2 separate regions of the Homo sapiens genome follow, and region 1 is linked to region 2. The links come from fine-mapping of genetic effects on gene expression. A gene starts in region 2. The other region holds a variant in brackets. All regions are shown on one strand. Distances are from middle to middle.

The links. PIP is the estimated chance that this variant, and not a neighbour inherited with it, causes the effect.
Region 1: its variant is the best candidate, but not a certain one, in a credible set for the expression of SMIM26 in whole blood (TOPMed, PIP 0.57).

Annotation. Positions count from the first base shown.
Region 1 is chr20:18,658,188-18,663,428 of GRCh38, reverse strand. The region is part of intron 4 of DTD1 (D-aminoacyl-tRNA deacylase 1); the gene reads right to left. Among named protein-coding and RNA genes, the nearest start is that of DTD1-AS1, 38 kb to the left of the region's middle. The variant T/A (reference allele first, on the strand shown) is at 2,155.
Region 2 is chr20:18,564,588-18,569,828 of GRCh38, reverse strand. SMIM26 (small integral membrane protein 26) reads right to left here and starts at 2,397. Exons shown (of 2, transcript NM_001348957.2): 1 at 2,233-2,397; 2 at 269-593. The coding sequence starts at 2,350. The coding sequence ends at 424. RefSeq lists a silencer at 2,264-2,546 and an enhancer at 2,610-2,709.

The sequences.
Region 1 (5,241 bases), 94 kb before region 2:
ACATTTTGGTAAGAACATAGATCAAAGTACTTAATAACCTGTTGTATGGAAACTTTGTATATTTTTTTTTTTTATAGATACAGAGTCTCGCCATGTTGCCCAGGCTAGCCTAGAACTCCTGGACTCATTGATCCTTCCATCTCAGCCTCCCAAAGTGCTGGGATTACAGATGTGAGCCACCACACCCAGCTATATGGACACTTTCTATGAAACTTTTCTACCAAACTAGATCATGAAAACAAGGTTGCCAGCCCTATTAGGGCATCCCATGAAACTTGGATGCCAGCCCTATTAAGACCTTTTCAAAGGAAAAGCCATTGTTAATAGAGAGGTTAACACTGTCCTTCTGACCTGGGTAGGATACCAAAGGGGCAGGGAAGTGAGAGGATAAGACCACTGGGCATAACCAGAGACACATGGTTCCTGCCCCAGTCACAACCCCAGCCTCTCCAGGCCCTGGACCCTCATTCCCCATTCCCACTACACAACAAAAGCAATATAAATGACTTTGCGATAAGAGCCATAAAAAGAAAGTTAATTTATCAGTAATTTCACCTCCTGAGCCACAACTGAGTTATCTGAAGCAGCTGTGTCCATTCAACAATGTGACAAGAAGGCCAGAACTGACAAGATGGCTGTTTTATATCTATTTAAAAGGAAAGTGGAACAAAAAAAAAAGGAGGGGGGAATATTTGACTTCTCTCCTATTATCCCTTTGGAAATGTCAGTACACATAGGATATAGGTCAACTGCATTCTTTTTAACTGGCGCACAGTATTCTACACTATGGACAAGACACCCTTTGTGTAACCTTTCCTCTACTGATTAGCATTTTGGTTGTTTGGATAACGCTGTATTGAGCATCCTTCTACCAATACCCTTCTGCACATGTGTATGTGCTTCTGGAGCAGCTTGCAGAAGTGGAATTGCTCAGTCAGGTTAGGTCTGGTTCTGATTTTACTCAGCATTTGCTGACTGCTTTCCAAAAATACTCTCCCCCCCACCCCCAGCTGGGCATGGTGGCTCACACCTGTAATTCCAGAACTTTAGGAGGCTGTGGCAGGCAGATCGCTTGAGGTCAGGAGTTCAAGACCAGCCTGGCTGTAGCAGGCAGATCGCTTGAGGTCAGAAGTTCGAGACCAGCCTGGCCAACAAAAATTGCTAGTATTATTGATTTTTAATTTTTACCTATCTAACAAGGCAAAACATGGGAGCTTGTAACTTGCATTTCCTGGATCATCAGGAAAACTGAACGTCTTTTCACAACTTTTTTTTAAGAAATGGGGTCTCGCTCTGTCACCCAGGCTGGACCGCAGTGGTGCAATCATAGCTCACTGTAGCCTTGAACTCCTGGCCTCAAGCGATCCTCCCACCTCAGCCTTCTAAGTAGCTAGGACTACAGACTTGTACCACCATGCCTGGCTAATTTTTATATGTTTTGTAGAGACAGGGTCTCACTATGTTGCCCAGGCTGGTCTCAAACTCTTGACCTCAAGCAATCCTCCTGCCTCAGTCTCCCAAAGTGCTGGGATTACAGGCATGAGCCACTGTGCCTGGTCTCTTTTCAAATCTTAATGTCCATTTATATTTCTTCTGGACATTACCTGTTATCAGCCTTTTCTCCGTTTCCTATGGCTCTTCAGCCTTTTTTTCCTTATTGATTTGTAGGTGCTCTTTATGGATTCCAAATATTATTACTTTGTTTAAACAAAGTTTCATAAATGGAGAGGAATACCATGTTTAAAGACTAGAAGACTCAGCTGGGTGCAGTGGCTCACGCCTCTAATCCCAGCACTTTGGGAGGCCAAGGCGGGCAGATCACGAGGTCAGGAGATCAAAACCATCCTGGCTAACACGGTGAAACCCCGTCTCTACTAAAAATACAAAAAATTAGCCAGGCGTGCTGGCGGGCACCTGTAGTCCCAGCTACTCAGGAGGCTGAGGCAGGAGAATGGCATGAACCTGGGAGGCAGAGCTTGCAGTGAGCTGAGATCGCACCACTGCACTCTAGCCTGGGCGACAGAGCAAGACTCTGTCCCAAAAAAAAAAAAAAAAAAGACTAGAAGACTCAACACAGTAAAAAAGTTAAATCTCTGCAAATTGAGTACAGGTTTAATGTAATTCCTATCAAATTCCCAGCATCATTTTTTGTAG[T/A]CACAGACAGCTTTTTCTAAAATTTATACAGAAAGGCACAGGTCCTAGAACTGCTTAAAAACATGTCTAACAAAGGAGAATAAAGTGGGAGGAAATACTGTACCCAACATTATGGCTTACTATGAAGCTACAGTGATCAAGATAGAGTGATAATGGCAGAGGGATAGGCACAAAGATGAATGAACAAAACAGAGCCCACAAACAGACCACACAAGTCTAACTAGTTTTTGACAAAGGTATAAAAATGGAGGCAAGACAGTGCTGGATCAACAAGACATCTATAGAAGCAAAGAAAATGAACCTCAGCCTAAAGGTGGGTAGATAAAATCACTGTCAATATCCTGGTTGGGATATTATCTGTGGTTCTGCAAGATGCTTCCATGTTAGGAGAAACCGGGTGAGGGGTACACAGCATCTCACTGTATTATTTCTTACAATTGCATGTGACATATAGTAACCTCAATACAAAATTCAATTTAAAATATTACAAATATTTTTTCCTAGCCTAACTTTTTTCTTCTGAATTTGTTTATGGTATATAGGGTTAATTTTTATCTAGTCAAAATATATCCCCTGGATTTATTTAATATTTTATATTTCACAATTTTCTCAAAGTTGCTAAAATGAGCCGATAGGATGTCTATTTTAAACTCTCTTTATACTAAATAATTTTTTTTGTAATAAAAAGCCTTTTTGTTTTCTTTCTTCCTTTTTCTTTCAGTTTCTGCTTTGCTAAATAAAAGCTTCTTTTTTGGGCCACCCACGGTGGCTCATGCCTGTAATCCCAGCACTTTGGGAGGCCAAGGCAGGCAGATTACTTGAGCTCAGGAGTTCGAGACCAGCCTTGGCAACATGGCAAAACCCTGTCTCCACAAAAAAATACAAAAATTTGCCAAGCGTACTTGTGTGCACCTATAGTCCCAGCTACTCAGGAGGCTAGGATGGGAGGATTGCTTGAGTCTGGGAGGTTGAGGCTGCAGTAAGCCATGATCACACCACTACACTCCAGCCTGGGCAACAGAACGAGACCCTATCTCAAAAAATAAAAATAAAAAATACTTTTTTTTTGAGACGGAGTCTCGCTCTGGCTCCCAGGCTGGAGTGCAGTGGTGCAATCTCAGCTCACTGCAACCTCCACCCTCCCGAGTAGCTGTGATTATAGGCTTCCACCACCACGCATAGCTAATTTTTGTATTTTTAGTAGAGATAGGGTCTCACCATGTTGGCCAGGCTGGTCTCAAACTCCTCTTCTGACCTCAAGTGATCCACCACTTCGGCCTCCCAAAGTGCTGGGATTACAGATGTGAGCCACCATGCCCAGCTGGTAAAAAAATATTTTTTTTCTTTCTTTCTTTCTTTTTTAAAGTTATGGGATACATGTGCTGAACGTGCAGGTTTGCTAACATAGGTATACATGTGCTATGGTGGTTTGCTGTACCTATCAACCTGTCATCTAGGTTTTAAGCCCCGTATGCATTAGGTATTTGTCCTAATGCTCTCCCTCCCTTTTCCCCCCACTCCCTGACAGGCCCCAGTGTGTGAAGTTCCCCTCTCTGTGTCCATGTGTTCTCATTGTTCAACTCCCACTTATGAGTGAGAACATGCAGTGTCTGGTTTTCTGTTCCTATGTTAGTTTGCTGAGGATGATGGTTTCCAGCTTCATCCATGTCCCTCCAAAGAATATAAACTCATTCTTAAAAAAATATATTTTTTGATTAACCATAATAAACTCTATAAAAGACAACATTTAAAAAATTAAACAAACCTGAGCATGACATTAAAAGATATGGTTAAGTAATCTCAATTTCAAGCTTAAGTTGATATGACAAAAGAGAAATTAAACATCATGAATATAATGGAAAGGGCACATGTACTTGTAGCTGTTCATAAAGGGAGGGAGGAAAGAGTCTGCAAATCGAGGAGAATGGGAGAGTCCCCTTCCACAGGTCAGCCTGGGCACTCATGGTGGGGAGCAACAGGGCCAAAGGTGCAAACCAGTGCTGGGCACTGCTTTTGACGAAGTTTGTTAGCACCTGACTCAGGCTTGCATCCATCAGACTACGTCCCAGAAAGAAAAGATGTCTGTTTCACTTTTCTAAAACTTTCTTGAGGAGTATACAAAAAGTATTAGTTTTGAAAATATAAATTCTTCTTAAGAAAGCAGCCATGCACATTTGAGATCTCTGCTTACGCTTTTTCTTTTTTTTAAGAATTCATTTAGATATCTTAGAACTACAGATAATAAAGTTCATTTTCAATTCCTAAAATGTGCCAGATGCCATTCTTTCTACAGAGTGCACAAATGTGCCACCTTTCTACAGAGAGGTAAGTGACCTGTCCAAAGCTGTCAGATGCCACACCCAAGCCTGGGGCATCAGGGGGCTGCTTCTCTAAGTGCAAGGCTCACTCTGCACCACAGTCACACCAACTGCTAATCAGTGTCCCACCCCTACATAAGTGGGTAAGGCTGCTTGTACCAAAACTTTCTTCTTTGATGCTAACATGGGGAGTGTTAATAAAGACTGACTCTGTGAAACAGATAAACATTTATATGTCAGTCATGTTTAACCAGTAGAATAGGAAAAAGTAAAGTCAGAGATCTTCCTCTTCCTACAACTTACTAACCAAGTTACCTGTGTGTTTACATGGGGTTGCACTCGAATGACAAACCATTAACAGACATTGAGAAATGAAACTGGCTAGCACAATGACTTCATCTCAGAAAAGAACATCAAAGTTCATCCACATTTTCATCTATTAATATCTATGGCAAAGACATAAAGCATAACAAACATTTAATTATTAGAAATTAAGTACAAATATCATGAGGCTGAGGCAGGAGAATGGCATGAACCTGGGAGGCGGAGCTTGCAGTGAGCCGAGATGGCGCCACTGCACTCCAGCATGGGCGACAGAGCGAGACTCTGTCTCAAAAAAAAAAAAAGAAATTAAGTATAAATAGAAGAGACACTAGCTATAGCTTGGTATTCAGACCTATAGCTAAATCTTTTAAAAACAACAACAACAACACACAGGGGTGGGGGAAACACACACACACACACACACACACACACACACACACACATC
Region 2 (5,241 bases):
GCTGAGGCAGGCGGATCACAAGGTCAGGAGATGGAGACCATCCTGGCTAACACGGTGAAACCCTGTCTCCACTGAAAACACAAAAAATTAGCCAGACATGGTGGCAGGCGCCTTTAGTCCCAGCTACTCGGGAGGCTGAGGCAGGAGAATGGCATGAACCTGGGAGGCGGAGCTTGCAGTGAGCCGAGATCGAGCCACTGCACTCCAGCCTGGGTGACACAGCAAGACTCCGTCTCAAAAAAAAAAAAAAAAAAGAAAACGCAGATAGTTTCCTTCAAGAAAATATTTATTGCATATTATTAGTGATTATGTTTTACAGCAAATTTAAATACATACACTTTTCACAAACCCAAAATGGGAATCAGGGCAACTATCAAATTTAAATGTTGAACCAAGTCCTGGTTTTCAGAATTCAGCAGCCAGTCATGGTTCTGTACCAGGGCCACCAGTCCATGATTTCCAATAGTTGAGGATCTTTTCTGTATTTGGAACAAAATCTTCTTTATATGTGACAACTGTTTCCACATAAAATCCTTTTGGGCGTTCAGAGAGTTCACTGGGTACTTCACTTGCTGAGCCATCCTTTTGGTCTACTTTATCACCATTAAGAGAAAAAAAAAAAAAGAACACCTGAATTATTAACTTAGAAAGCAGTCATTAAAGTCTTAGAAATTAACTAAGGTAAGAATTACATCCACTCTCTCCAACCCCAATAATGAAGGAAGGAATGAAAAGGAAGGGAAAAGAAAAGCTGGGTGCGGTGGCTCACGCCTGTAATCCCAATCTCACTTTGTGGGGGCCGAGGCAGGTGGACCACCTGAGGTCAGGTGTTTGAGACCAGCCTCGCCAACGTAGTGAAACCCCATCTCTACTAAAAATACAAAAATTAGCTGGGCGTGGTGGCATGGGCCTATAACCCCAGCTACTGGGGAGGATGAGGCAGGAGGACTGCTTGAGTTGGGAGATGGAGGTTACAGTGAGCCAAGATAGCGCCAGTGCACTCCAGCCTGGGCGACAGAGCTAGACTCTGTCTCAAAAAAAAAATAAAACAATTCGCCGGGCAGCAGTGGCCTGCGCCTGCAATCCCAGCTACTCGGGAGGCTGAGGCAGGAGAATCACTTGAGCCCGGAGACGCAGGTTGTGGTGAGCCGAGATCATGCCACTGCACTCAAGCCTGGGCGACAGGGTGAGACCTTGTCAAAAAGAAAAAAAAAAAGAACGAAAGAAAGAAAACATAAATATGGACATTAAAATATTTTTACTTTATATATAAATGTAAAGTATTTTTACCATATATTACATATAAAGTAAATATAAAATATTATATATAAAAATTTCTTTTTCTTTTGGTAGAGATGGGGGTCTCCCCATGTTGCCCAGGCTGGTCCCGAACCCCTGGGCTCAAGCAATCTCCCACCTCGGCCTCCCAAAGTTATGGGATTACAGGCGTGAGCCACTGCACCCGGCCAAAATGTTTTTAAATGCTTAATGCTGGACACATGTACTTTCAGGCCACTGACAGCTTCATCACCAAATGTAATCTTCAGCATAGTTTTTACACAACAACTTTACTGAGATATAATTAACATATACGATTAACCCACTTAAAATATACAATTTAATGTTTTTAGTATATTCAGATTTGTGCAACCAGCACCACAATCAATTTAAAAATACTTTCATCCACAAAAGGAATCCATACCTTTGGCAGTCATTCCCCAACTCCCCAACCCCTCAGCCCCTAGCAACCACACTAATCAACTTAATGTCTCTACAGATTTCCAGCATATTTTTCAAAGCTGAGAGACTTTTCTCCCTTTGCGCTTAGTAACTGGAAGATTTTAATACGCCTTGGCTGCTAAAAGTACTGAAATTGCTCGCCATATACGATGAGGGACAGTAGTACTGAAGCATCACTCTTTAAAAATCACCGGCCAGAGTCTCTGAAAGTCCACCTTGCACTTTACACAGATTCCTCCAATTCTGAATATGGGGACGGCCCTATCCAGTAAATGATTCAGATTTAGGAAACAATATTTACAAGGTATTAATAATTCCTGGAGTCTAGTTCTTTGCAGATTCCATTATAACAAACGGCTGTTAGCACCCGTTTCAATTAGTTTTGCAGAATAAACCTGGGATTTAAAGGACAGGGAAGTTGTTTCCATGACCCCCGGGGAACTCTCATCGAAGGCCGTGTGTTCCGGGGCAGGCCCCGCCGAAGAGCCCTACCTGACGACTTCGCCATTGTCCGGCTATAGTAAAGCAGTGAGCCCAACACAGACCAGGTGCCGATCCCGTAGACCACCGACATCCGCCGGTACCAGGCCGTGAACTCATTTCGATACATGGGTACGCCAGCGAGTGCCTCGATTCTCGCAGGCCCACGGCAGAGGCGGGACTTCCGGTGAGGGCGTCGCTGCGGTCCCTGCCGCCGGAACCATTAAGGAGCCGCCAGTTTTCAGCGTCCGCTTCCGGCTCTGCCCCGATGCACCTTGGGGCCTCTGGCCCGGAAAGTCGCTCAGGTGTCCGGACTTTCGGGTGTAGAACTGTGGGCGTGCGATACTTTTTACCACGTGACGAGGACTAAATGACAACTTAGAGGAGAAGCTTCTCACTTGCAAAATTGTAATGCCTTCGTGGGCTCCAGACGGTATCCGAAAAGGTTACTTCCAATTCCTCTTCCAGTTTTCAGATTTGCAGGGATACCGCTTGTCTCTCCCCGCAACTCTTCTTTTCCTCCATTTTTCTTTCCGGAACTCTGGGTGAACTTTAAATACTTCCAGGCCAAAGCTAATCCCTCCACTAGGCTCTGGGTACTATTTTTTCCAGCCTCAGTGGCCTTTCCCCTCATTGACACCCTAAGTCCTCCCCCATCTTCATTATTGACGTTTATCCTTCATACAAACGTGCCCATGTCTCAAAAACAAAAAATCTCCTTCGACTCCGACCACCTCCAGCTTTTGTCTTATGCATACATTTTTTAAAGCAAGATGCCCTCAATAGACTGAACAACTTAAGAGCAAGTGTGATGTGCTTGGCACAAGGTAGGCCCGGTAAATTAACGTTAAGTACTTTTCAGCCACACTCAAACTTGGTTTCGAAAGCATTTGCCACCACTGACCCCACCTGCACCTTTCATGGCTTCAGAAACATCATTTTCCCTGGTATCCTTCAGGGTTCTTTTCACCTTGCCCACCCTTTAAAAACTGATGTTCTGCCCTACAGAAATAGATAAAAAACTTAACTCTGAATGGATCGCTGACTTAAATGTAAAAGCTAAAACTATTTAATATAAGCCTAGAAAAAAACCAGGAGAATATGTTTGCCATCTTGGAATAAGCACAGAATTCTTAGAATAAAAAAGGCATCCCAAGCGGGGTGGCTCATGCCTGTAACCCCAGCACTTTGGGAGGTAGAGCAGGGAGGATTGCTTGAACCCAAGAGTTCCAGACCAGCAAGGCCAACATAGTGAGACCCCATCTCATTTTATATATATATGCATAAAGCGAAAATGGATAAATAGGGCTTTTAAAAAAAAATTAAAATTTTTGCTCTTTGAAGGTCACAGTTGAGAAAATGAAAAGCCAAGCCACAGAATAAAATATTCATAATAACATATATCTAACAAAAGGACTTGGATCCAGAATATATGAGGACGCTTTACAACTCAGTTATAAAAATACAGCCCAACTAAAAACCAGGCAATAAATTTGAATAGAACGAAAGAAGATATACAAATGACCAATAAGCACAGTAGCATCATTAGTCATCACAGAAATGGACATTAAAAGAATACAATAAGAGACCATTACACACCTACTAGAATGGCTAAAATCAGATTGAGAATGCCAAGAGCTGTAAGGATTTGGAATAATTGGAACTGTTATTGATGGGAACATAAAATGTTACAATCTCTTTGCAAAACTTAGTTTTTAAAAAGTTGAACATATGCCTACCATATAACCCAGGCATTCCGTTTCTAGTTATCCATGAGAAATGAAAACCTGTGTCTGCACACAGCCATGTACATGAATGTTCATAGTTTTATTCTTAATAGGAAAAAATAGAAACCACCCCCAATACCCATCGAGTAAATGGCTAAACAAAACGTGGGATACCACTTACAAATAAAAAGGAACTACTGGCTGGGTACGGGTGGCTCACACCTGTAATCCCAGCACTTTGGGAGGCCAAGATGGGTGGGTCACCTCAAGTCAGGAGATCGAGACCAGCCTGGCCAACATGGTGAAACCTCGTCTCCACTAAAAATACAAAAATTAGCCGGGCATGGTGGCGGGCGCCTGTAATCCCAGCTATTCCAGAGGCTGAGACAGGAGAATTACTTGAATCCAGGAGGCGGAGGTTGTGGTGAGCCGAGATTACACCACTGCACTCCAGCCTGGGTGACAGAGTGAGACTCCTTCTCAAAAAAAAAAAAAAAAAAAAAAAAAAAGAACTACTGATAAATACAACCATACGATGAATCTCAAAATGGATTATGCTAAGTGAAAAAGCAAGCTAGACACCAAAGAAACCAGTCACGAAATTCTAGAAGCAAACTCCAGTGGGAGAAAGCTGATGAGTAGTTGTCTGCAGTAAGGGCATGGAGAGAGGGAAGGGCTAAAAGGGTCTGAGGAGACTTTGAGAGGTGATGGTAATGTTCTGTATGTTGATTATTGTGGTGGTTTCTGTCAAGATTTATCCAATTGTATGCTTTAAATGGGTGCAGTTTATTATATGTGAACTATAGCTCAATAGTTATAGACAAAACAGAAAAATTGGTATTGTTTCAAGCTTGCGTCTCTTCTCATCCTTCTCATCAGCCTTACTCATGATACCTATGTTATATGTTAATAACTCTCAAATCTACTCCAGATTCTCTGAAAGCAAATTCATGTTACTGCCAACCTGCTATGCATCCTCGGCTGCATATTCCACAAGCTCCTGAAACTAAAAAAATGTTCCGAATTGAATTTATCAATGCCACTCCCAACAGGAAACAAACCTTCCCTTTCTCTTCCCTGATTCAGAGAGTGATTGAGAAATTGCCCAAGCCAGGAACTTGGAATCATCTCACCTGACATCCTCTGTCACCTCTGTCTAAATACCCTGTCTCTGTTTAGGCCTCATTTCTCACTTGGATTACAGTCTCCTCTCATCCTTCCCCCTCTGGAGTGTCTTTCAAACCTTAAATTATCATTTCACCCTCTGCCTAAGATAAGTCAGAGGCTTGCCCTA